Homo sapiens: one gene and its partners. The protein of the gene in region 4 interacts with the protein of the main gene of each other region in a pairwise test. Each region holds a gene or a part of one and is shown on either strand. Other genes may lie near its edges.

The links.
Region 1: the proteins of ABHD17C (region 4) and PEX26 interact in binary tests that used the Homo sapiens proteins (3 or more experiments, as listed by UniProt).
Region 2: the proteins of ABHD17C (region 4) and A2M interact in binary tests that used the Homo sapiens proteins (3 or more experiments, as listed by UniProt).
Region 3: the proteins of ABHD17C (region 4) and PHYH interact in binary tests that used the Homo sapiens proteins (3 or more experiments, as listed by UniProt).

Annotation. Positions count from the first base shown.
Region 1 is NC_000022.11:18,080,983-18,088,012, reverse strand, and holds part of PEX26 (peroxisome assembly protein 26), read right to left. Parts: intron 4,577-7,030; coding exon 4,281-4,576; intron 2,902-4,280; coding exon 2,755-2,901; intron 42-2,754; coding exon 1-41. UniProt on the Homo sapiens protein: Peroxisomal docking factor that anchors PEX1 and PEX6 to peroxisome membranes. PEX26 is therefore required for the formation of the PEX1-PEX6 AAA ATPase complex, a complex that mediates the extraction of the PEX5 receptor from peroxisomal membrane.
Region 2 is NC_000012.12:9,098,890-9,105,919, forward strand, and holds part of A2M (alpha-2-macroglobulin isoform a precursor), read right to left. Parts: intron 5,512-7,030; coding exon 5,350-5,511; intron 2,786-5,349; coding exon 2,558-2,785; intron 2,319-2,557; coding exon 2,255-2,318; intron 635-2,254; coding exon 492-634; intron 1-491. UniProt on the Homo sapiens protein: Is able to inhibit all four classes of proteinases by a unique 'trapping' mechanism. This protein has a peptide stretch, called the 'bait region' which contains specific cleavage sites for different proteinases.
Region 3 is NC_000010.11:13,277,269-13,283,064, forward strand, and holds the end of PHYH (phytanoyl-CoA dioxygenase, peroxisomal isoform a precursor), read right to left. Parts: intron 3,843-5,796; coding exon 3,708-3,842; intron 1,087-3,707; coding exon 1,033-1,086; 3' UTR 531-1,032; downstream 1-530. UniProt on the Homo sapiens protein: Catalyzes the 2-hydroxylation of not only racemic phytanoyl-CoA and the isomers of 3-methylhexadecanoyl-CoA, but also a variety of other mono-branched 3-methylacyl-CoA esters (with a chain length of at least seven carbon atoms) and straight-chain acyl-CoA esters (with a chain length longer than four carbon atoms).
Region 4 is NC_000015.10:80,691,352-80,698,320, forward strand, and holds the start of ABHD17C (alpha/beta hydrolase domain-containing protein 17C), read left to right. Parts: upstream 1-3,958; 5' UTR 3,959-4,078; coding exon 4,079-4,668; intron 4,669-6,969. UniProt on the Homo sapiens protein: Hydrolyzes fatty acids from S-acylated cysteine residues in proteins. Has depalmitoylating activity towards NRAS and DLG4/PSD95.

The DNA of each region.
Region 1 (7,030 bases), on a different chromosome or scaffold from region 4:
CTGGGCCAGCTTGTAGAGGAAGTGCAGGGAGGAAGGGGAAGCTGCAGGGCAGAGGGAGACTACAGTGAACGTCCCACCCCTCTCACCTGTCACTCTGCCATCTCCCACCCTGGGAGACTCCACTACCAATTACACATAGTTGGTTTTGTTTTGTTTTTTTTAGAGACAGGGTCTCGCTCTGTCACCTAGGCTAGAGTACAGTGCAGTCTGTGTTCAGCTCACTGCAGCCTCAATCTCTGGGGCTCATGCGATCCTCAGCCTGCAGGTGCAGGTTCTCCTCCCCCACCATCATCACTCCAATGAGTCGGGCCTGCTGCTGAGGGTCAGGGCCACTGGGCCAGGCCCTTCTGAAGCAGCCTTGGAAAGAGCAGGCTCAAATGTCCTCATGCCATCCCCACTAGGAGACCAGGGTTTACGAGACTAAAGGGCTTACGGGAACCATAAAGAATCATAAAGAGTTTCTAAATCTGTATCAGTCAGGAGGTGGCCAGGGATGAACGCTGATGATACTGAGCATTCCGAGCGCTAACTCGTGACTTCTTTGTAAAGCAAACAGAGTCGTCCACAGGGGATCCCTGCTCAGCATTCAGCAGACGGGTTAGAAGGACAACTCTGAGCTATGTGACGGAAACCTCGCTGGCCAGGCATGATGGCTTGTGCCTATAATCCCAGCACTGTGGGAGGCTGAGGTGAGAGGATCACTTAAGGCCAGAAGTTGGAGACCAGCCTGGCAAACATGGCGAAACCCCGTCTCTACTAAAAATACAAAATGTAGCCTGGCATGGTGGTGTGTGCCTGTAATCCCAGCTACTTGGGATACTGAGGCAGGAGAATCGCTTGAACCCAGGAGGCGGAGGTTGCAGTAAGCCGAGATCACGCCACTGCAACCTGGGCAACAGAGCAAGACTCTGTCTCAAAAATAAAAATAAAAAATTAGCCGGGCATGGAGGCACATGCCTGTAGTCCCAGTTACTTGGGAGGCTGAGGAGAGAAGATCGCTTGAGCCTAGGAGGCAGAGGTTGCAGTGAGCCAAGATCACGCCGGTGCACTCCAGCCTGGGCAACAGAGAAAGACCCAGTATCAAAAACTAAATAAATAAAATAAAATAAAAATAAAAATAAATAAATAAATATTTTAAAAAAGCTCACTGAATAAGAGAAAGAGAAATGGGGAAACAGGGAGAATCTAAAGACTAAGTTAACAAATGGCACTTCTCAAAATAGACAAACCATTTGAAGGGACCAGTATAAGGGTTTCTGATTTCCTCTTAAATTTTGAAACTTATTTAATCATATTCTAAGTCTAAATTCATGAGAAGAGTAGAGATTAGAACATAACTCACACTGAGTAACACAAAAAAATCTAAAAGAGCGAGTGCCAAGTTTGGCTTCATGCACCTGAGGGGTCAATCCTCAGGAAATAACTGGGGTTGTTCCCAAATATCACTTAGGGAGCTCATTCCTTCTTCACAGCGAGGCAGAAAACAGAATAATCACCCAAATGTTCAATAATAGGGGTTGTTAAATTACTTAGGGGCATTCCTGTGAACTGGAATAGTTAGCGATTTAAGGCCATGCTTGAAAGCATATGTGTGACATGTAACTGCCTACAATCTCTATATCCATAGAAAAAGACTGAAAGCACAGCAGAGTAGCAGATTTCTATGCCCTTCTTTATACTTTTCTCTATTTTCCACATTTTTTTTTCTTTTTTGAGACAGAGTTTCGCTCTTGTAGCCCAGGCCAGAGGGCAACAGTGCAATCTTGGCTCACTGCAACCTCCGCCTCCTGGGTTCAAGCAATGCTCCCTGCCTCACCCTCCCCAGTTGCTGGGATTACAGGCACGCACCACCACACCTGGCTAATTTTTGTATTTTTAGTAGAGACGGGGTTTCACCATATTGGCCAGGCTGTTCTCGAACTCCTGACCTCAGGTGATCCACCCTCCTTGGCCTCCCATAGTGCTGGGATTACAGGTGTGAGCCACCATGTCCGGCCTATTTTCCACATTTTCTAAAATGTATGAGTTTTTCATTTACAACTTGCTTTGAATTAACACTTCATGAGACATTAATACTTGAATTAACACTTTTGTAGATATTCTGATGAGCGGAAGTTTTTTTGTTTTTTGTTTTTTGTTTTGAGACAGAGTCTCGCTCTATTGCCCAGGCTGGAGTGCAGCAGTGCGATCTTGGCTCACTGCAACCTCCGCCTCCCGGGTTCAAGCTATTCTCCTGCCTCAACCTCCCAAGTAGCTGGGACTACAGGCATGTGCCACTACACCTGGCTAATTTTTTTTGTATCTTTAGTAGAGATGGGGCTTTACCATGTTGGCCAGGCTGGTCTCGATTTCCTGACCTTGTGATCTGCCTGCCTTGGCCTCCCAAAGTGCTGGGATTACAGGCGTGAGCCACCGTGCCTGGCCAAGAGGAAGTTTTTTTAAATTCTGAGGTTCTAGTCAGAGTTCAGCCCTAGAAAAAGTGGAGGACTATGACTCAGTCCATGTTCAGGAGTCAGCAGGGCCAAGTGGACTTTCTCCTGGCTGCTCTCATAGACTCCAGGACTGGCCTCTCCTTATGGGTGGGGCTGGCTCATGCCCAGTCTAGCAATTCCTCCTTGTGGAACAGACTCAGGGGAAATGTCATAGGAGAGACTCCCCTCCCCAGTAGGACTCTGACAAACACCCACTCCCACAGGCCCAGCCCTGGCAACAACCCCTTCCCAGGAAGGACAGGGGAGAGTCTCCACCTCTTACCTGGATCAAATCTCACCACCAGGAGACAGAGGATCAAGGCAGCCAGGAGACTCTTTTTGAAGGGCAGAGAAAAGAAGTGGCTCACCGCAGAGTCCCAAAGCTGGCGAACCAACATCGGTAGTGACAGGAACTTGTGGGAGACAGAGCCTGGCCAGGGAGACAGAGCACAGCTTCAGGGATGTCATGGGAATCAGCTTCCCTGACCCCGACCTCTGTGCTTGCTTCTAAGACCTGAGCAGGCCAGGCGCAGTGGCTCATGCCTGTAATCCCAGCACTTTGGGAGGCTGAGGCAGGTGGATCACAAGGTCAGGAGATCGAGACCATCCTGGCTAACATGGTGAAACCCCGTCTCTACTAAAAATACAAAAATTAGCCAGGCGTGGTGGTGTGCGCCTGTAGTCCCAGCTACTTGGGAGCCTGAGGCACGAGAATCACTTGAATCTGGGAGGTGGAGGCTGCAGTGAGCCAAGATCGTGCCATTGCACTCCAGCTTGGGCAACAAGAGCAAAACTCCGTCTCAAAAAAAAAAAAAAAAGAGTTTAGTAAAAGGGTATTAGGTATTGGCTAAAGCCTTCATTCCTTAACTGCACATACTCTTGCAAATCTCATGAATATAAATTGTTTTCCTCGTGTTTATTACTTATTTTGACTATATATTATTTACTATATTGAATGCATCTTTGTAAAAGTTTTTTAAAACCTTTCAGAACCTTTCAGGCCAGGCGCAGTGGCTCATGCCAGTAATCCCAGCACTTTGGGAGGCCAAGGCAGCCAGATCACGAGGTCAGGAGATTGAGACCATCCTGGCTAACACGGTGAAACCCCGTCTCTACTAAAAATACAAAAATTAGCCAGGTGTGGTGGCGGGCACCTGTAGTCCCAGCTACTCAGGAGGCTGAGGCAGGAGAATGGCGTGAACCTGAGAGGTGCAGCTTGCAGTGAGCGGAGATCGCATCACTGCATTCCCGCTTGGGCGACAGAGCGAGACTCCGTCTCAAACAAAAAAAAAAAAAAAAAAAAAGAGAGAGAGATGGTGACTTTCTGTCCTTGAAGTATTCACAACTAGACTAGATCATCACTCAAGGAAAAGGGCGGAAAAGATTCAGCGACCAGGGAAAGGGTCTGCAAATTAGTTTCTGATATTCCTTTGGCTATCCCAGCAGATCTCAGCTGTGTCTGTATTGGGGCCAGCATTTAAAGGAGGAAGGACATCCCACCCAGACCAGTATGGTGGAAGCAAGAGACCTCATCAGAGGACTCCAATGGGAAAATGACTTTCAAAAGACAAGTCAAGGTCCCAAGACCCAGCAACACCTTCCCATGTGGAGATTCTCCTTCCACTGCCAACTTCAGAGGGTCTGGCCTTCACTTTGTGAAGCAAATCAACAGGCCTCCTATTCTGTGACTCAAGAGTTATTCATACAAAGAACTGCTTCTAAGCTCGCAGGAGTTTCACGACAGACCCCGAGGTACAGTGCAAGCCCGCAAGTCCACTTTACAGAGGTCGCAGAGGGATAATGTCCTACCTTCCAGGTTTGGCTTCTGGGCCTCCTCAGAGCCTGAGTGTTCCTGTTTCTGCTGCTGCCTCGCTGTGTGAATGGCCTGAAGTACATCCAGTCGCCGCTCCTCACCAAAGGCTGCAGAGCCCACCACTAGCTCCTCAGCCTCCGATAAGCAGCCCAGAGGCAGCAGCACCCGCTGCACGTGAAATTCTGCCAAGGCTCCATATTCTGGAAGGTTTTGATTGGCTGGGTCTTGGAGCCAGGCACCCACCACATCCAGCACAGCTCCAGGCTCTTGCATTTTGCTGTATAAAAGAATGCTGCAGTCCCCAAAAAACCCAATCCCAACAAAAGAAGAGTCAGTGCTCAATGATTGGTTCATTTCCCATGACCACTATGCTTCTCCTATCCAGCCCCTCCTCACTGTGTCCTCGAGCCCTTTCCGATGAAATGATGATGCTCATGGGAATTCCCCACGACACACCCATCACTAACAGCATAATCAATGGGAAAAGCTGAAAGCCTTTCCTCTAAGATCAGGAGCAAGACAAAGATGCCTACTTTGACCGTTTTTATTCAACATAGTACTGGAGGTCATAGCCAGAGCAATCGGGCAACAGAAAGAAATAAAAGGTATCCAAATTGGAAAGGAGGAAGTCAAGTTATCCCTGTTTGCAGACAGAACTAATAAACGGATTCAGTAAAGTTGTGGGATACAAAAATCAATGTACAAAAAACAGCGTTTCTATACGTGACAGTGAACCATTGGAAAAGAGATCAAGAAAACAATTCGATTTACAATAGCTACCAAAAAAATAAGATACCTAGGAATAAATTAAACCAAGCTGGCAAAAGATCTCTACACTGAAAACTATAAAACATTGATGAAAGAAGTTGAAGGGGACACACAAAAAATGGAAAGATATCCCGTGTTCATTCACAAATTGGAAGAATATTATTAAAATACCCAAAGCAATTTACAGATTTAATGCAATCCCTATCAAAACACCAATGGCATTCTTCAGAAACAGAAAAAACAATCCTGAAATTCGTATGGAACCACAAAAGACCCCAAATGGCTAAAGCAGTTGTGAGCAAAAAGAACAAAGCTGGAGGTATCATATTACCTGACTTCAAACCATACTACACAAAGCTATAACAGTAACCATAACAGCATGTTATGGCATAAAAACAGACAAAATAGAACAGAACAGAGAGCCCAGAAATAAATTCATGCACCTACAGCCAACTGATTTTCAACAAAGGTGCCAAGAACACACACAGGGGAAAAGACAGTCTCTTTAATAAATGGTGCTGGGAAAATCGGATATCCATATGCAGGAGACCAGACCCCTACCTTTCCCCACATACAAAAATTAACTCAAAATGGATTCAAGACTTAAATGTAAAATCCAAAACCATGAAACTACTAGAAGAAAGCACAGGAGAAATGCCTCACAACACTGGGCTGAGCAAGTGTTTTTTTCAGTAAGACCTTAAAAGCACTGGTAACAAAAGCAAAAATGGACAAATGAAATGACATCAAACTAAAAACTTCTGCACAGCAAAGGAAGCAATTAAGAGTGAAGAAACAACCTACAGAATGGGAGAAAATATTTGCAAACTATCCATCTGACAAAGCGTTAATATCCAGAATATATCAGGAACTTAACAGCAGAAAAAAAAAAAAAAAACCTGATTCAAAAGGGAAAAAGACCTCAACAGACATTTCTCAGAAGACGACGTACCATGGCCAACAGGTATATGAAAAAATGCTCAACACTACTAATCATCAGGGAAATGCCAATCAAAACCACAATGAGACACTACCTCGCTCCAGTTAGAACAGCTCTTATCAAAAAGACAAAAGAAAACGAGTGTTGGTGCGGGTGAGGATGTGGAGAAAGGCAGCACTTACACACTGTTGGTGGGACTGTAAATTAGTACAGCCATTATGGAAAACAGAATGCAGGTTCCTTTAAAAAATTCAAAATAGGAAAGACGGCACTTCCTTTTTGTAAGTGGTGGCAAGTGCTGAGAGAATGCCATGAAGGCCTGGGGCACACTGAGAGAGTATTTGCTGCCTGCCCACCCCCAAATGCCACATGCTGCCCCTCTACTGCCAGCAAATCTCTGCACCTAAGCAAGTTGTGCCAAGTCCCGCTTCTGGTACTGCCACCGGCCGACAGTCAAGCAGTTCCACAATTCCAAGATCAAGTTCCTGCTGCCCTACCAGGTCCTGTGTCTTCAGCACAAGCCACACTCCAACATCAAGAGTCCCAACACCTTCTTCTAGGTACAGGGAACTGTCACCGGGTGTCATCAAAATAAACTTAAGAATGGCCAGGTGAAAAAAATAAAAATAGAACTACCACATGATCTAGCAATCCATTATCTCCCCTGTTTAATGCAGCACTATTCACAACAGCCAAGATATGGAATCAACCTAAGTGTCCAACAACAGATGAATGGATAATGTGTGTGTGTGTGTGTGTGTGTGTGTGTGTGTGTATATGTGTACATATATGTATATTATGTGTATATATGTGTTTATATATGTGTATATATATACACACACGCATATATATATATATATATATATATAATGGAATACTATATAGCCATAAAAAAGAATGAAATCTTGTCATTCATGACAACACAGGTGGACCTGGGGGACATCATGTTAAGTGAAATAAGCCAGGCACAGAAAGATAAATACTACATGATTTCACTCATGTGAATCTTTAAAAAAAAAAAAAAGTTGATATCATAGA
Region 2 (7,030 bases), on a different chromosome or scaffold from region 4:
CAATCCTGAAGCTTTTTGTTCCCTACACTTCTCTTTCATTCTCAAGAATCACTTGAGCCAGTAGAATTATTTCTAATTATTCTTATAAATTACTAGTCATGAAATGCCATTTTTATCTTTGATACACGGCAAGGTGCTCATTAATTGTGGTGGGACATGCATGGGTCTAGGTGCTCTTGCATTTTTCTTTTGGCTCCTTAGTAGTCTTAAAAACTTGCTTACATATTTCCCAACGTTTCATCATAGAAGAAGGGAATAACATACTCTGAACTGTGTAATTGGTAAGAGGCACTGCTAGGAGAAGTTTGAGAGTTTTGTATAAGGAATCAAGTGATTCTGCTTCTTAGTGTGACTCTGCCACTACCTTGCTGAATGTCTCTGGGGAATTTGTTTAACCCTTTTGGCCCTAATGTTCACATGTGTAAAACAAATGATAACAATAGTAACTTCTAGTTTTACATGTTGAAGATTTTATGATCTAAAACACACACCTTGTTGGCCAGACAATTTTCAACATCATATTTTGCAGAATCCCCAATCACGTCCCCGGTAGGTAAAACAGCATAGATGAGCAACCGAGCGACAGGAGCAATGTCTGACTTCACAGGGATTGAGATGGAAAAATGGCCCTTCACTGGGGCACAAAGAGAATGAGAGGAAGCCATCATAGGTTAATGACTATTTCCATTAGTAGATGTAACAGACATAATAAACAGTAGATGTAACAAATGGATGATTACCTCTAAGGACTCTAGCTTTAGAAAAAAACCCTATCAAAGCCCTCTCTCCTCTCATAAATCATATACTCTGTTGATTTTTCACCAGCTTTAAGCTTCAGCTCACCCACCTAATGTTCTGATGCTAGTTAAGGGTATGAAGACATCCAATTCACTACCATTTGATCTAGGCCTCATACTAGAAGAGGGAAATAGAACCTGAAGTTATGAGATGTAAGAGTAAGAGTTCAACACATTGTATTCATGCTACATGCTCTTTAACCTTCTATGAGCCAATATTTGGTTCTTTCTCCATAAGAGGAACACCATGCTCCTTCAGAAGTTATTTTTTGATGCCTATGTAGATTCTTTAGAGGTTGCATTAAGTTTCCTTCAGTCTGCTATGGTGCTTCTGTGTTGCTACAAGAACTAATGAGAGAGTAGATTACTGATACTTTTCTAGCAAGTTATCTTTTAGAGTCTACTAGACTAGGAGCAACCTTCAAAGGTTTATATTATGACATATTTGCTCATGGCAAGAGTCCGCTTCAGTCGGTAGAAGTACCCAATTTAATGCTTCATAAATCATAACTATCTTGAAAGGGAAAAAAGATATTTATAATAATATAAATGACATAAATGACTCAGCACAAGACCTGGTATATACAACATACCTTGAAATCGTACATTTTCTCCACCCCATTCTCTAACACAATTCTCATTTTGAGAAGAGGTTCAAGAATATTTATGGTTTAAAAATCTGGAATAAGCATAGATTATACACAACAATATTTTATGTATTTTATTTTTCCCCCTTTGTTCTTATTTATTTATTTATTTATTTATTTACTTTTATAGAGATGGGGTCTCACTATGTTGACCAGGCTGGTCTCAAACTCCTGACCTCAAGAGATCCTCCCATCCCGTTCTCCCAAAGTACTGGGATTACAGGCGTAAGCCATCATAGCTGGCCCACACCAATATTTTAAATAACGCAAAGAAAATAGGCTGAAAAAAAAGACAACACATATTTGATAAAGGGTGAGAAAAAAACCATTATTGTTTTCCCTCCCTCAACTTTCTTTTAATTAATATTAGATGGAAATGGTCTCTCGTTACTTGAAAGTATTCCTGATATTCCCAGCTCAGGAATGGAAAACCAAACATCATATCTTCTCACTCAGAAGTAGGAGCTAAGCTATTAGGAAGTGGCAGCTAAGCTATTAGGAAGTGGGAGCTAAGTTATGAGGATGCAAAGGCATAAGAATGATACAATGGACTTTGTGGATTCAGGGGGAAGGGTGGAAGGGGGTGAGGGATAAAAGACTGCAAATTGGGTACAATGTATACTGCTCGGGTGATGGGTGCACCAAAATCTCGGAAATCACTACCAAAGAATTTATTCATTCATGTGACCAAACACCACCTGTTCCCCCAAAAACCTATGGAAAAAAAGGGAAAGTATTCTGATACTTCCGTGGTGTAAGGCTGAATGGGTCAGAATGGGGCAGCAATGCAGAGATGATGGAAATACTCACTGTCTTCCTGCTTCACAAGCAGTCCATGAGTCCCAGTTCGGACAATGCCTCCCTTTGCCATTATCTGCAAAAAAGGAAATAAAAAGAAATTAAATGTGCCAGAGAGAACACGCTTCAGTCTCACTTCAATATACTTGTTTTATTGAGTCCCTGCCGGCAATAATTCACCTCAAGAGAAATCAAACTTTCAAAAGGAACATGGATAAGAAGTTGAAGTAATGACATCTAAAGAGCTTCATGATTACTTGCTCCACAGAGAGCTTTTGTCTACAGTGAAGTCAACGCAGTAACCTCCCTTCTCACCAGATAATAGAAGGAGAGCTTCTTCAGCCCCAGCAGGGTGCCTCCATTCAGAATATAATGTGCCTGGACTGTCTGAGTATGGCCACAGGGTAGTTCATGAGACATGGGCTCAAGGTGGACAAAGCTCTTGCTTGGGGAGAACACAAGATAAGCAGTGTGATGTGCCTCTTCGTGTTCTTCTGACACCCACTGGTAGCCGTAACAGGGACTACGATCCTTGTAATTGACCTAATGAATTAGAAAAATTATATTATTTTTAGATTATACGTCATAAAGATTAATGTTCTCACAAAACTACGTAAGTTTACTGTCCTACCTTAACTAGTAGCTAGAAATCTTTTGTTCCACAATGAAAAGTGGGAGAAGGACCCCTGATTTTGTTTCTCTGCTTCAAATGTAGGCATGCTTTGTGACTTTACACTGCAGAGCCTCCTGGGATTGAGATTTATATTTCTTAAGAGCATAAAAGGAGGCATCCTTTGCTCTGATTAGCTTGCTTGAAATTTCTTTGACTGCTTTACCTGTGCAATTAGAGACACTGGAGCTATGAAACTTCATTGAGGAGAGTAAATAATCTCTAGAAATGGAAGAACTGTGCTTTCAGAAAGCAGCTGCCTCTTTTAGGGTGGATTTTGAATGGGTATTATGAATAAATAAAATATTGTAACCTTAGGGGTCTGAGAAGACATTGGTAGAAAGCATTGGTTTAAGAGCTGAGCTGATGAATTAGCTGAAGTCTACCTCTTCTGGGCTATCTTAGGCTGATTGCTATTATTATTATTTTTTTGAGACAGGGTTTTGCTCTGGCGCCCATGCTGGAGTACAGTGGCACAATCTTGGCTCAGTGCAATCTCTGCCTCTGGGGCTCAAGTGATCCTCCCAGTCAGCCTCCTGAGTTGCTAGGACTACAGGTGCATGCCACCCCACCCAGCTAATTTTTTGTATATTTTGTAGAGACAGGGTTTCACCACGTTGCCTAGGCTCGTCTCGATCTCCTGGCCTCACGCAATCCACCCACCTCAGCCTCCCAAAGTGCTGGGATTACAGGCGTGAGCTACCGTGCCTGGCCTAGGCTGACTATTTTTAATGCTCCCTGCAATCTGGATTCTAATACCTCAGAGGCCCTATTTGGGTTATATTTCCAACTTTTCTTCCTGTAGAAGTTATTCCTTAGCTCCTTTCAGGCTTCCTCTACCTTCATCCCCAGCTCCCAATAGCACTAGTGAATCCTTGAGCAAAACATTTTGTTCATATCTTAATGTATATTTTGGTGACAACACATATATGATCACCCCAAACAGGGAACAGGTAGAAATAATAATTTCATTGTCAAGACTAGCACAGTGCTGGCACGTGGAAAGCATTCAAGACACTTTTTGAAATGAGTAAACATTCAAATTAGAGGGAGGTGCTTTTATGCCATCTATTAAAGCTAAATAAATAAAATGTATTATTTATTTCTCTATAACAAGGTAAAACTCTAAAGAGGCAGGCGTTTTCCATTACCATGATTATGTAATATATATTAAATATGTATTGTATATCCATGTATCTATAGACATGTCTACATCTCTCTTGATGAATAGAGGACTGCATGCTATACCGAATAACTTATATTGGTATGAACAGGTCATCTGGAGAAAATTAGAATAGCAAGACAAAATAAAGTAAGGTAATAATTTTTGGAGTATATATATTTAAAACTAAATGCTAATTATGTTAGAATTGGCTTTTATAGTAAAAGTATCTAACAGTTAAAGGGGGCTTACTAAGTGATTCAACATGTATGATTTCACTTAATCTTCACAACCACCCCAAGAGTCAGGTGTTAGTATTGCAATCATTTTACAGATAAGGAAATGAAGCACAGAGGTTTTAGTTAATTCCTTAAAATAGGGTTGAGCCAGTATTTTTAACCACTTTATCTGATTCAGATTCTGGAATTCACACTTTTCAAAAAAGTTATTATAAACACACACACACACACAACATAAAATTACCATCTTCATTATTCTTTAGTGTACAGTTTGGTAGTATTAAGTATATCTGTTGTGCAACAGATCTCCAGAACTTTTCATCTTGTAAAACTAAACCTGAATACCAATAAGAGGAATTCCCCATTTCTCTCTTTCCCTAGCCCTTGGCAACCACCATCCTGTTTTCTGTTTCTATGACTTTGACTACTTTAGAAACCCCATGTACGTGAATCATACAGTATTGGTCTTTTTGTGACTAGCTTATTTCACTTACCATAACGTCCTCAAGGATCATTCATGCTGTAGCATGTGACAGGATTTTCTTCCCTTCTCAGGCTGCATAATATTCTGTTGTATTTATATACCACATTTTGTTTACCTGTTCATCCCTTGATGGACATTTGGGTAGCCTCGATCTCTCAGCTATTGTGAATAGTGCGGCTATGAACACGGGTGTGCAAATAGCTCTTTGAGACCCCGTTTTCGATTCTTTTGAATATATGTCCAGAAGTAGGATTACTGGATCATTTGGTAATTCTATTTTTTAATTTTTTCAGGAACTACTATACTGTTTTTCATAGTGGCTCCGCCATTTTACGTTCCCAGCAACACTGCTAAAGTCTAACCCGCACTTTTAATCACAATATACTGCCTTCTTTTCATAAACTTTAAAAAAGTTAACCTTCAATCGGTTTCTAATTGCTAGTTTTTTTCTCTCCATAGAACTAGACACAGTTTGGAAATTTTCTCACCCTTAGGTTGCAACCTTGTTTCCAAGGCTACTTCATGTCATTGGTAATTTCTTTCCAAACTTACCCTAACAGTAAGAGAGGTACCCATAACATTGGTGGTGTTGATAGAGAACTGTACAAGGCCATGCTCATCCGTGGTAGCATTGGAGTAATAGTTTGCTTCATTTCCTCTGATGAATATGACTTTATTTGGTATAGGGACGCCTTTCCCATCTACTAGGCGCACCTGAAGATTAAAAGCTGTGGATTAGTTATATTGGTAATAACTAATAGGCACCAAACATATTCATTTATCACATTTTTTAGTGCCTCCTCTATGTTGAACATGGTTCCAGGCACTGAGGACACAGCAGTGAAAAAAAACGAAGTTTCTTCCATCACAGAGCTTACTGTCTAGTGAAAGAGATAGATGCTAAATAAATATATACATAACATACACTAATTTAGTAGTAATCAATCCTAAGAAGAAAAACAGAGCAGTGTGAAGGGATAGAGAGTGATAGGGATAATAACAAGAGTGACCTGAAAAATGTCTTCTAGATATTTTGGAAGTGCTGTGTATTATTATATATAACTCTTAGAGAGTCACAGAGCACTAGAGTAATATGATAATGAAATATTTTAATCTATTAATCTATTAACTAAATTTATTTGTGCCCCAAACACCTATTTTGGAGTGGACCATTAACTTCCTATAGATTAGTGTCTGAAGTCTCATAAGTGCACAAGTAAACAATTGCCAATACATTGTCCTGTGTGTTTCTCCAGTTGCCTTAGACATGGTCTCTGCTTCTCAACCTAGATCTTCAGCCTTTTGGAAGGTAGGCAGATTTTATGACACACTTCCCATGTGAAAAATATAAAATTGAAAAGAGGCACACAGTATTAAATAAGTTGCCAAATCTAATTTACTGCTAATATTGTATTGGCAGTTGAGTAGTCCAGTTCAGATTGTAAAGGTGGCAATTCTTTTTCAGTATAAGCTACAGTTGGTAGCAGGAAGAACAATAGGCTGACCCCCATCAGTACTCATAATTGATTTACAAAATCTAAGTTTGCCAGTGAAATGTTGGCTGCATGTACAAAGACAAGAATAGGCACATAATTCTGATTTTCTTCTAGCTAGAGAGTCTTATGACAAATAGGATATTTAACAGCAATAAAATGTACTTACAAAGTACACTATCTTTCTGAGAAATTTACAAATGAGCTACACTTTCATTTTAGGAAGTTGAATACATTTTGGTGTCATGACATAACCAAGCCTTCTAGAATGTACTCCACTTTGTTGAGTCTATGCCTCTTTTACACCCTTCATAGCTGAAATCCTGTAACATTTACATTAAGAAAATGATACACAGTAAATACACATTGAGGCACATGTAACTGTGATCTCAGACTTCTAGAGTCATAAAGATCCATTTGCACATCTGCTGACAACAGAAAAATTGTAAGAGAAGATTTTTTTGGTAGATAACATGAAAATTCATAATTCAAAAATCTGAGAACCTTAAATAGCAGTGTTTTACCCCATGTTCACTGTTTTAGAAATATACTTGTTATAGAAAAATAGTGTAAATATACTATCCATGAAATAAACATTATTGTAGAATCTTTAATACTTCAAAATAAAAATTAAAACCACCTACCCACCTGTTTCCATACAAAGTTAGTGTTAGCATCGTAATGAAACTGGTCAGCATGAATTTTGAGATTCTTGTGAGAAAATGTCATAAAAACCTGAG
Region 3 (5,796 bases), on a different chromosome or scaffold from region 4:
AGCTTGAAGGAGGTTAGGCTTCATTCATAAATGTGGAAAGTTTCCAGCAGCCCTACCCAATAAGATACATCAAATGAAGTCACCCTCATCTTCGTTCTTTTTATTTATTTATTTTTCATTCCTTTTTTTTTTTTTTTGAGACAGGGTCTTGCTCTGTCACCCAAGCTGGAGTGCAGTGGTGTGATCTCAGCTCACTGCAACCTCTGCCTCCCAGGTTCAAGTAATTCTTCTGCCTCAGCCTCCTGAGTAGCTGGGATTACAGGTGCATGCCACCACGCTCGGCTATTTTTTTTTTTTTTTTTTGTATTTTTGGAGAGATGGGGTTTTGCCATGTTGGCCAGGCTGGTCTTGAACTCCTGACCTCAGGTGATCCACCCACCTCGGCCTCCCAAAGTGCTAGGATTACAGGCGTGAGCCACTGCACCTGGCCCTTGTCTTCATTCTTCAGGAACAGAGGAAAGGACTGGAAAGAACAAGTCTTCTTGTTAAGGGAATGGTTGGGTTGAAGAAATCACAGGAGAAAGCCCTTGTCCGAGCAGGAATATCCACTTTATTTGGACTCCATGACACCGTTCCTATGCCCTTGACTAGATGTGAATGTATTATACATTGTTCTAGATTTGGGGGAAAAAAATCTCTTATGACATAAAATTGGTAGGGAATGGGTTTATCAGAAAGGGGATACAAAACATACCCTAAGCTCCAAATCATTCACTTCTTCTTGGGTAAAGAGCTAACTGAATGAAAGAAATTGATTTAACACTTAAATTAGACACCAACCACCTTTATTGGCTGCCACCCTAAATTAGTTTTCCTTAAAACAGTAATATTTCACTTTTACTGTTTTTTTTTTCCATTAAAGCAACACCATTGTGCTGCAAAACTAACTCTATGCAATTAAGTACCTGATACATGTTTTCTGCTTTTAACAAGTGATAGAAAAGGTTACATCATCTCATTAAGAAAACATTTTCCTTAGACATTTCGTTTGGTTTTGGTTTTCTGTTGAAAGAGTTATAGCAGATGGCTATTTCAAAGATTGGTTCTTTCTCCTTTCACAAGTCGAGCTCGAAACATCCAAATATCCTGGAAATAATATCAAACAGAGTGGGTTTATGGAACACTTCAATCTGCCCTCCATTAACCTTCAATTTCACCATAACACAAAATTGATTTCTAGCTTCTATGAAAGGTTACATAGGGAAAATAATCCCTGTAAGTTATATTCATTAGTAAACAAAACAACTCAACTTAAACTACTTACTCAACTCTTTTTTAAAAATTTTTTGGGGACACAGTCTCACCCCATTGCCCAGGCTGGAGTGCAGCGGCTCACTGCAACCTCTGCCTCCCGGGTTCAAGCGACTCTCCTGCCTCAGCCTCCCGAGTAGCTGGGATTACAGGTGTGCACCACCACGCCCAGCTAACTTTTTGTATTTTCAGTAGAGACAGGGTTTCGCTACACTGGCCAGACTGATCTCAAACTCCTGGCCTCAAGTGATCTGTCCGCCTTGGCCTTGCAAAGCCTCCCAAGTGCTGGGATTACAGGTATGAGCCACCACTCCTGGTCTACTTAACCGACTTCTAAAACAGTGTTAACTAAATTAAGTCAGTGGGTCCCCCAGCTGCTGTCAGTTCTGTTTTATTCAGGATATTTGTTGGTGCCAGCTAACATAACTGGGTCAATGTCATGTCGGGTTACAGAACAAACAGTTCACTGCCATTTTTCTGCATAATTTTTTTTTTTGAGACGGAATTTTGCTCTTGTTGCCCAGGCTGGAGTGCAATGGTACCATCTTGGCTCATTGCAACCTCTGCCTCCTGGGTTCAAATGATTCTCCTGCCTCAGCCTCCCAAGTAGCTAGGATTAGAGGCATGTGCCACCACACCCGGCTAATTTTATATTTTTAGTAGAGACGGGGTTTCACCATGTTGGTAAGGCTGGTCTCAAACTCCTGACCTCAGGTGATCCACCCGCCTCAAACACCCAAAGTGCTGGGATTACAGGAGTGAGCCACTGCACCTGGCCTGATGACTCTTATGTTACTTGTCTGAGCCTTTTTGAGTGTTCTACTCTTGATGAGATGATAATAGTGAACATGGTATCAAGGATTACTGCTTTGTTTGGTGGGTTTCTTCCCCCTCTGCCCTTAATAAAATAATTTAGATGTTCTTATTTCTTGGTTCTTGTTTATTTTTGAGCAAACAGCAAGGTATGGTGGAAAGAATAATTTTCAGATTTGACCTGACTCTAAAATCAAGCTTTGTCGCTTAGCTAGCTTAGATCAGCCTCTGGGATTTGTTTTCTTGTCATTGACAGCATGGAGTTTATACTGCCCCACCGGGTTTTGGTGAAGAAAATAAGAAAATGAATATGAATGTGCTTTTGTACTTTACAGAGAACTATGTAGCAGAGGTTAATATTGTTATTCTAAATATAACTTACAGAGTAATTAAACTAAATGTGGGAGGTATTCATTTAGCACAACCTTGACAAACCTCAAACATAATGTACATATATTTGTTCTCCCTTAAAATTTAGGATGTTAGCTCAAAGCTCCAGTTGACAAAATGTATAGGCATTTTAGGTACTGAACAAAAAGTGAGGAAGGACAAGAATTTCTAGGACCTGCAAATGCAAAATCAGAGCATTTTCAGAGATGCGACACATTTCCAGGTTCTAAAGGGAGAAGCAAGATTCCTTCTTTTGTTGTTGTTGAGACAGAGTCTCGCTCTGTCGCCCAGGCTGGAGTGCAGTGGCATGATCTCGGCTCACTGCAAGCTCCGCCTCCTGGGTTCACACCATTCTCCTGCCTCAGCCTCCCGAGTAGCTGGGACTACAGGCATGTGCCACCAGACCCAGCTAATTTTTGTATTTTTAGTAGAGACGGGGTTTCACCATGTTGGCCAGGAAGGTCTCGATCTCCTGACCTTGTGATCTGCCTGCTTTGGCCTCCCAAAGTGCTGGGATTACAGGCGTGAGCCACCTCGCCCAGCCATAAATACTCTATTCTATATTAATAAACATGGCCTATGATTGGATCTCAAACCTATAACTTTCCTTCTATCCCTTCAGAAGGCTTTTTTTTTGACACATGGTCTCACTCTGTCACCCAGGCTGGAGTGCAGTAGTGCAATCAGCTCACTGCAGCCTTGACCTCAAGCTCCAAGTGAGCCTTTCAACTCAGCCTTCGAGTAGCTGGGACTACAGCTATGCTCCACCCAACCTGACTAATTTTTATTTTTATTTCTTTTTTAGTAGAGATGGAGTCTCACTGTGTTTCTCAGGCTGGTCTCCAACTCCTGAGCTCAAGTGATTCTCCTGCTTTGGCTTCCCAAAGTGTTGGGATTTACAGGCATGAGCCACCATGCCCAGCCAGAAGGCAAGGTTTTGTCTTTGATTTTCTCTCATCTCAATCTGTAGTTTTGTTTTCCTTTACTGTCCTGTGTGAAACAGGACAGCCAGCACACCTCTGGACAGCCCCAAGACATAAAGAAGCAGCAGGAAGTTCTCAAGCCTCCTGCACGGGGGCACAAGTGTAAATGGAAATTCCATTGTCATTTTTGGTGGGGGCTCAGCGATGTCCCTAAAATGAATCTAAACCCAAGCACTATATACTGTCAAATAAACTAGGTATGAGAATTATGAAGCATCTGAAGAAAAGAAAAACCTGAGATTTTTACCTTGCTATTGTATACAAACATACCTTCAAGTTCACGCTATTTTCAGCTCCAAAGAATTTATGTGCTATTCCTACAACTTCCTTCTCGATGTTTTCTTGACTGGTGCCCTTCACGTCAATGTAGTGGCAATCGGCACTGGCGAAATGGCAGGAAATTGCCTGTGCAAAGTGAACAAATTGATATTGGAGAAAAACATCCCATGAATACCAGTGACCAAGCAGGGAGTCTTTCTTTTAGAAAGTCATTTATTTCACTCAGTATTTGATTTCTAAGTGGAAAGTCAGGTCCATTGCATCCTGTGTCAATCTCTTTGTAACTAAGCCTGTTTTTGTTTCCAGCTAGAAGTTAATTGAGAAATTTCAAAAGATCGTTAACCAGATGTGACATGTATTTTTGAAAGGTATATATGGGAGAGGGAATGGAATTATGTCAGTAAGAGGTATTTAGTTTTTTTTTTTTTTAGCATTTTATTTTCCTAATGAATGAATATCCCAAAGTCTTAAGAAGGACTGCATTCCACGGCAGTTTATCTCATAAGTTAGTTACCTGGTCCAATTTGGGATGAATTGTTATTTCAGTGGCAATAGATTATGAAAAGAACTAAAAATACCTTGAGATAGAAAATAATGCAGACACCTTCTCTCAAATCAAAAGGACATTTAAAAGCCAATACCAGTGACATATATTACCCCTCTTGCTTCCTTCTGAGGGTAAGGATGAAATTGCTTGGTTCTCCCTATTTTAGAAAAAGTTATAAACAGATCTAAGCTGCAAGGCAATCGTTAAAACTTACCTTTTTTGTCACAAGTGATCACACTTGTCAGAAAGACTTTCTACTTTGCCCCAAACAACAAATTTCTAGGGAGTGGAGTCACAAACTCCATTGCCTCTGTAAGCCCTGGTGCCATACGGCACTGTAACAGAGCCCAAGGCAAAGGGAAAACACGCACCCCTATATCTGTATCTTTATGAAATTATAGTAATATTTTCCCAGAACATTAAAGTCATTAAGCCTGGGCACGGTGGCTCATGCCTGTAATTCCAGTACTCTGGGAGGCCAAGGCAGGAGGATCACTTGAGGCCAGGAGTTCAAGACTCGCCTGGGCAACATAGCAAGACCATGTCTGTACAAAAAATGAAAAAATAAAATTAGCCAGGTGTGGTCATGCATGCCTGTAGTCCCAGCTACTTGAGAGGTTGAGGTGGGAGGATGGCTTGAGCCTCAGTGTTCCAAGATGCAGTGAGCTATGATTGCACCACTGCACTCCAGCCTGGGCAAAAGAGCAAGATGCTGTCTCAAATAAATATATAAACAAATAATAAAATGTTTTAAAATAAAAGCATTAAAAAACATTGGGCCAGGCGAGATGGCTCACATCTGTCATCCTAGCATTTTGGGAGGCCAAGGTGAGACGATCACTCAAGGCCAGGAGTTCGAGACCAGATTGGCCAACCTGGGGAAACCCCATCTCTACTAAAAAATACAAAAATTAGCTGGGCATAGTGGCGTGTGCCTGTAGTCTCAGCTACTCACGAGGCTGAGGCAGGAGAATTGCTTGAACCTGGGAGGCCAAGGTTGCAGTCAGCTGAGATTGCATCACTGCAATCCAGCCTGGGCAACAGAGTGAGACTCCACCTCAAAAAAAAAAAAAAAAGAAAAAAGGAAAATTGCCAAGTCTATATATTAAAACCCACAACATGATTTGTGTCGTTGTGCCTGCACCTCGCTACTTGCACAGCTCTGAAGGTTGTGCTAGTGTGGGGTCCAATAGTGTCTTTTATTTAAACTTTTGGCATTGTGCGCAGCCAATACATTGGGTATTTTGCATTAATTTTGATTTTTTTAAATTTCGCATTAAAATGTTACTAAACTCGATTGCAGAGTCTTTTTTTGGCATCCCCTTACATTTTACCCCTGGAGAGAGTGCCCCAACTTGTCCCACCCTAATCCTGACCCTGATGAGGCTGGTGGAAATATGAATGAATGGAAGACGAAATTTGGCCCCTAACCCATGGCCTCAGGAGACAACAGTGATTTTTTCTTTTTTAGTAGAAGTGGGGTCTCGCCATGTTGCCCAGACTGGTCTAGAGCTCTTGGTCCCAAGTGATCCT
Region 4 (6,969 bases):
TGCCAGTCATAGGGGAAACGATGAACAAAATACACATGATCCCTGATTTCACTGAGTATCCAGTCCCAAATTTTTAAAAAAATGTACAATGGGGCAACATTACCTTAGATTCCATCAAGACAACCAGATTCTGTTTTTAAGCATGAGTATCCTCTTATGGTCAAAAGTTGGTTCTACTTTTACAAATAAAAGTGGTCTTGAGCAACTCCACATCCAGCTGACTAGTGTGGAAGCCAAAATTCAGTGTGTAAAGGGCCAATATTAAGTAATAGAGATCAGGGTATTTAGTTATGTGGAATATTGTTTAGTTCATCAATACTGGCTGGCTTGGCAGGATACAGAGTTACCTAAGAGACAGATCATACAATGCACTTGTTGAGGGCAGGAGGAGCTGTGCATTAGCCACCTTTACATTCCCAAGTCAACTCAGTGACTGACTCATGATAAGTACCTAGCAGAGTAAATATGTTTGCTGACCTGAACTCAAAGTTAGATCTTTCTCTACTAGGATGATCAGAATGACATAGAAATTTAAGGCAGAGGTCCCCAAACCCCGGGCCGTGGACCTGTACTGGTCAGTGGCCTGTTAGGAACTGGGCCACATAGCAGGACGTGGGTAGCTGGTGGGTGAGCATTACTGCCTGAGTTCCGCCTCCTGTCAAATCAGCGGCAGCATTCGCTTCTCATAGGAGTGCAAACCCTATTGTGAACAGTGCATACGAGGGATCTAGATTGCGCACTCCTTATGAGAATCTAACTAGGATTTTCATGGAAAAAAATTGCCTTCCATGAAACCAGTCCCTGGTGCCACAATGGTTGGAGACTGCTGCTTTAAGGTCAAAGTGGACAGCTGGTAATCCCCAATTTTCACATTTTATAGGGCAAATGCATTCTTTATGTGCTGTATGTTAAAGTTTCCAAACCAACATGACAAGGCACACTAACACATTTGTTGTTAAAGATGTTAGATGTTAGAGACGTGCTGAGATCTTTAACCTCTTATCCCCTGGGCAGCACGTCTCATGTCAGTGGGCTACAGAAACTCTACCACTGGCTATATGTGGCATGAGATAAGAAAGGCTTGGTAGCTTCACTCTACGGCATATAATTTTAGGGTCTCAACTGAATATTTACACAAACCTGAACCAACATGTTTTCCTGGGGAATAAATGCTCTTTCAGCCCACCTCTGTGTAGCCTTGTAATAGAATGAAAACAAAAGCCAGGCTTTTATTTATTTGCTTATGTATTTATATTATACTGAATCACACTCCACAAATCCCTTGTGGAATGAGACCAGGTATAAATAAACAAGTATCTAGCTTTTAGATTTTTCTAACAATGCTAACACTGCTGCCAGGCCATCTGAAATATAAAGACTGTCTTTTCCATCAGCAGCACAGAAGACGAGTACTTGAGACTCTCATCATTCCCCCCTTTCATGAACTAAGGGCTATTCAATTCTTATAAAGGACAGGTGAGAGGAGTGGTATCTGAGAAAGACTGACTAGGGGGCTGTTAGATACCCTTTCATCTCAGTTCCCAAAGTTTGATTCTTGTTCTGAATTAGATTAGGGACTAATGCACTCGACTATAACCTTAGCTCCCCATAGAAATATCACCACTGAATCAGGACGCAAGACCATCTTCTTAGCTTTTATGAGGACTTGATTTTTTTTAAAGGCACATAAAAACTGTTTTGAATCTTCTGCTGATGCCCTAATTAGACTGTAAGGTATCTGAGAGCAGGGACTATCTTACTCACCTTGGTAGCTGTAGCACCTAACACAGTGGATGCTGTGAGCACAAAAAACATTACATACATAAATGCTGAATACAATAAAGTGACCAAAGTATACCAATGTGTAGCAAGTTAGAAAGCCTTTTTATTTTTTTGAGACATAGTCTCACTCTGTCACCCAGGCTGGAGTGCAGTGGCATGATCTCGGCTCACCGTAACCTCTGCCTCCTAGCTTCAAGTGATTCTCGTGCCTCAGCCTCCTGAGTAGCCGGGATTGTAGGTGCACGCCACCATGGCCGGCTAATTTTTGTATTTTCAGTAGAGACGGAGTTTCATTATGTTGGCCAGGCTGGTCTTGAACTTCTGACTTGAAGTGATCCACCCTCCTCAGCCTCCCAAAGTGGTGGGATTACAGGCGTGAGTCACTGTGCCCAGCTGTATAAAGCTTTTTTTTCTTTTTAAAGGATTTTCGCAGAAAAATTCTTTTTTTAAAAAAAAAAAAAAAAAAAAGGAAATGCAAACCTGCAAAGCTAGAATTGGGCTTTATGTGAAGAGTTTCACCAAGTGTGAAAACCTTCAAAACAGACTTCAAATATGCAATCTGGACAGGCTTTGTTACCAGGTTTTTAAAAATCAAGTTTGAATAGTTCAAAAACAAGTAAAATTGTTTTAGTGAAGAAATGGCCTTTTAAAACCCAGGTCCTAGCTGGGCAAGGTGGCATGTGCCGGTAGTCCTAGCTACTTGGGAGGCAGGCCGGAGGGTCATTTGAGCCCAGGAGTTGGGAGTCCAGCCTGGACAATACAGTAAGACCCTGTCTCTTAAAAAAGAAAAAATTAAAAGCGAGGTCCTGAAGGTTAATGAAATCAGTATCGGCAATTCATTTAGATGACGGTGCTCAAAATATTCGTCCTGTGGAAAGTCACAACGAAAGGTAAAATTCTCAGGACATCTGTGAGTTAAAACAACAGACCCAGCGTAGGGATTGTGCCAACCTCCCAGTCTCTAGCTGCCCTGCTGGCAGTCCAGGAAGGGTATCTCCTGTCAGTTCCTGAAAGGGAATTCTTCAGCTGCCAAATCAGGCGGGAAAAAGGAAGTATAGAAGGCTCTGTGGAAACTGGCACCAGAGCACAGTTTCAAGGCACCGAGAGTTATATTTGAAAAATCATGTAAAGGTGGCTGCCAAGATTACAGTAGATTTAAAGCAGTATAAGAATCGTTCATGACTAAGACCACTGAAAAATCCTGGACCCAAAACAACTCTAGAGACACAAACACTGTAAACGATACCTAGTATATACTTACTACCGGAAAATCTGCCACACGTGGGATTAGAAATGACAACCTCAACATGGTTTGTTGCTAAATACAGTACCCTCCTGTTCTAACAGCTGACTTTTATAGATACAGAAATGTACTAAGGGTAAAACCATGCCCTTAGAAAGGAAACGCTGTTGCTACCTATACAGAAACAGCCTCTCCTAATAAGAAACACACTGATGACCACCCTATCCCACAACCCCGGTACCCCTTACGGTGCTGAGAACTTTTGGTACTGAGCCAGTTCAGAAAGCAGCACACACGAGAGCCAAATATTTCGGGCACATTCCAACTCTTGTCCACCCCTTAGTTTCCTTTTCAGTAGACTCCCAAGAACCTCCATCCACGGGAGAAACCTGGATTTGGGGGAGGGAATCCCAGGGGGAGGGGAGGGGAGCGGTCCACCCCGGGACACATGCACCCCCTCCAGGGTCCCCTCTGCAGATCGGCCCAGCTGTCCGGGCGCAGAGCCCCCAGCCCCGGCACCCAGCTTCTCCGGGCCCCGGAGCCGCCTGGAAGCCCCCGTCGGCCGCAGGTCGAGAAGGTGCTTCCCAGGCCGGGGAAGGTGCCCGCGCCCTTGCCCGCAGCGCCCCGCCCCGATGCCCGGCTCTGCGCCGCGTCCCAGCGGCGGCGCCGCCGCGCGGTAACCCGGAAGTGGCGGCGGCGGCGGCGGCGGCGGCGGGCGTGCGGGAGCGGGAACGGGAGCGGGGGGCGGCGCGCACGAGCCGGCCATGGACGCCGCCGCCGGCTTTGTGTGCCGCGCGCGGGCCCGGGCCGCCCGCGCCTCGCCTGGGTTCCGGGGCCGCCGCTGACCCGCCCGGGCTCCGAGCGCCGCGCCCGCCGGGCCGGCCCCGCCTCCTGCCCTCCTCCGCCTCCGCCTCCTCCTGCCGCCGGGCGGGCGGGCTGCAGCCGCCCTCCGCGCTCGCCTGCCAGCTCCCTCGCCGCGCGTCCGTCCTCCGTCCTCCCGGGCCAGCCAGCCAGCCAGCCAGCCGGGCCGGCGGCGGGCACCAGGCCGTCCCGATGCCCGAGCCAGGCCCCAGGATGAACGGCTTCTCGCTGGGTGAGCTGTGCTGGCTCTTCTGCTGCCCGCCCTGCCCGAGCCGCATCGCCGCCAAGCTGGCCTTCCTGCCGCCCGAGCCCACCTACACGGTGCTGGCGCCGGAGCAGCGCGGCGCCGGCGCGTCCGCCCCGGCCCCGGCCCAGGCTACCGCCGCCGCCGCCGCGGCCCAGCCGGCACCGCAGCAGCCCGAGGAGGGCGCGGGCGCGGGGCCCGGTGCGTGCAGCCTGCACCTCAGCGAGCGCGCCGACTGGCAGTACTCGCAGCGCGAGCTGGACGCCGTCGAGGTCTTCTTCTCGCGCACGGCCCGGGACAACCGGCTCGGCTGCATGTTCGTGCGCTGCGCGCCCTCCAGCCGCTACACGCTGCTCTTCTCGCACGGCAACGCCGTGGACCTGGGCCAGATGTGCAGCTTCTACATTGGCCTCGGCTCCCGCATCAACTGCAACATCTTCTCCTACGACTACTCGGGATACGGCGTCAGCTCGGGCAAGCCCTCCGAGAAGAACCTCTACGCCGACATCGACGCCGCGTGGCAGGCGCTGCGCACCCGGTGAGCCTGCCGGGGTCGCCAGGCCTGACTTCCAGCTGTGGGGAGGCGGGGTGGGGGTCTCTTGGGGCCCCTGGGGCGGCCTGCCAGGAGAGGGGCCCCTCCTCCGGGGCTGAGGGCCAGCGGAGAGCCCCTTGGCCGCCGTAAATTCGCTTTTCTTGTCCCACCCTGGCTTGCTCCCACCCTCTCCAAAAACCGCGCCAGCCTTCAGGTTCCTGGAGAGCTCGGACTCAGAGAATTTTGCCTGCTTTGGCTCGCCTGTGTGTCGCCGGCCCACCGGCTGGGTCTTTTGTGGCTCCGGTCACCGCGAGTGGCAGAGTGTGGGTGCTTAAGTACCGGGCAGAAAGAAACAACTTGGTTCGAGTTTCGTTTGTACGAGCTGAAGTGACCTTGGGCAAGGCACATGGGTTTCTAGACTCAGTTTCCTTCCCTGTAAAGTCAGTGGGCGAGACAGGATGGCCTCTAAAAGACTTTCTGGTTGTAAAGTGCGGGCAGGACAATGTCTGGGCAACCTTGGAAACAGCTGGAGCGTCAGGTGGAGCGGGGAGTTTGCCTCCTGGTGGGGCAAAGTAGTGGCACTGTGGGGCAGGAAGTTAGCTGGTAGCTGTGGGCCTGGCACCTTCCACACGGCCTCCATAACAGTCCAGGATAAGTTTGAAACTTGCAGGGGCTGGGAAATCTCTGACCTTAAATTAGCATTCACAGAAGGACTGAAAAGTGTTTAGGGTGGGCCATCTGTGAGCCAGGCACAAACTGGGGGCATGGTTTAGGGGTTAGACCTGGTTGTTTTATAACAAGCAAACCAAAAACCTGACTTTTATTCACTATTAGACAAAAGTCTTATACATGTGCAGGTCAGGTTACCTGTTTGTGCTCCAGTTTGGGTATCTGTGACCTTTCCGACCTGCCTCATAGCAGTGATGGTGAAAATAACCTGAGGCCATGTCTATGATGAGATTTGATTTCTTCAGATGAAAGAGTCCCCAGAGGAAGTACACCGGGCATTATTGTCGCCATGGACCCTTCTATAGTTTTTATCTAAAACCTGTTTGCTTATGCACATCACCAACGTTAATGATTTTTTTTTTTCATTCGTACTCACGCATATGTTCCTAAGTGACTCCTTGCCTGTCTGGGAAAATGGCTTGTCCAACAGGGAAGTACTTAATATTTGCTCTATGTTGCATGTTTATGCCCTCCTGAAGTCCTGAAGGGGATGCCCTCATTGGGATTATAGCTTTTCGAAAGTGGCTTAGGCAGATGAGAATGTATCATATGCAGATGCATTGGGTCAGAGTCTGTAAGTAGTTAAAAGCCACCTGTTCCAGTAAAGGGTTTCAAAAGTATGTGTCACACACAGTCTATAGCTTGCTAGAATTTGCTGTTGGCAAAGGTATTAAAAATAAGGTTGGCATTAGATCTTTAAAATTTGAAACATGAAAATCCTACCTTGAGTAGATTTTTTAATTGAAGAGTTTCCATAGAACATTGCTTCTGTGTGTGCATGTCCACATTACAATGAAAGCCTTTCACATGGCTCACCCTTTGCCCCAAATATACAGGTGTGTCTGTGTTACAGCTTACGTGGAGTGTAGTTATTTCCTGGAAACTTTTTTTTTTTTGGTCATATTTAGTTGAATTAAGGGGCGTTGTTTTGGATAATGTTGAATTATCTGATAGTGTATCAGTTGAATTAAGGGTAATTGTTTCGGATAACTTTGAATTATCTGATGGTATGTCTAAAGATTGCCCATGATTTATTTAATGTTATACCAGAACTCATATCTAAGTTAATTTATTCACCTGTAAAAAAGGTTAGAATTTGAAGGCTGCATGCGAAGCTTAGAATTTGAAGGAACCTTATAGATCCTCATGTCTTGTGCTTTTCAAACTGTTTTGACTGTAACCTCACAGTAAGAAACACATTTTACGTTTTGATCAAGCACACATACACGTCTGTATCCACATACCTGAAGCCAATGCTTCACAAAACAGTAATTTTTCTATGGGCAGCACACATAGCAGAATATGTTGTTTTATTTCACTTTTTTTTTTTTTTTTTTTTTGAGACGGAGTCTTGCTCTGTCGCCCAGGCTGGAGTGCAGTGGCGCCATCTTGGCTCACTGTAAGCTCCACCTCCCGGGTTCACGCCATTCTCCTACCTCAGCCTCCCGAGTAGCTGGGACTACAGGCGCCCGCCACCGCGTCCGGCTAATTTTTTGTATTTTTAGTAGAGACGGGGTTTCACCGTGTTAGCCAGGATGGTCTCGACCTCCTGACCTCATAATCCGCCCACCTGGGACT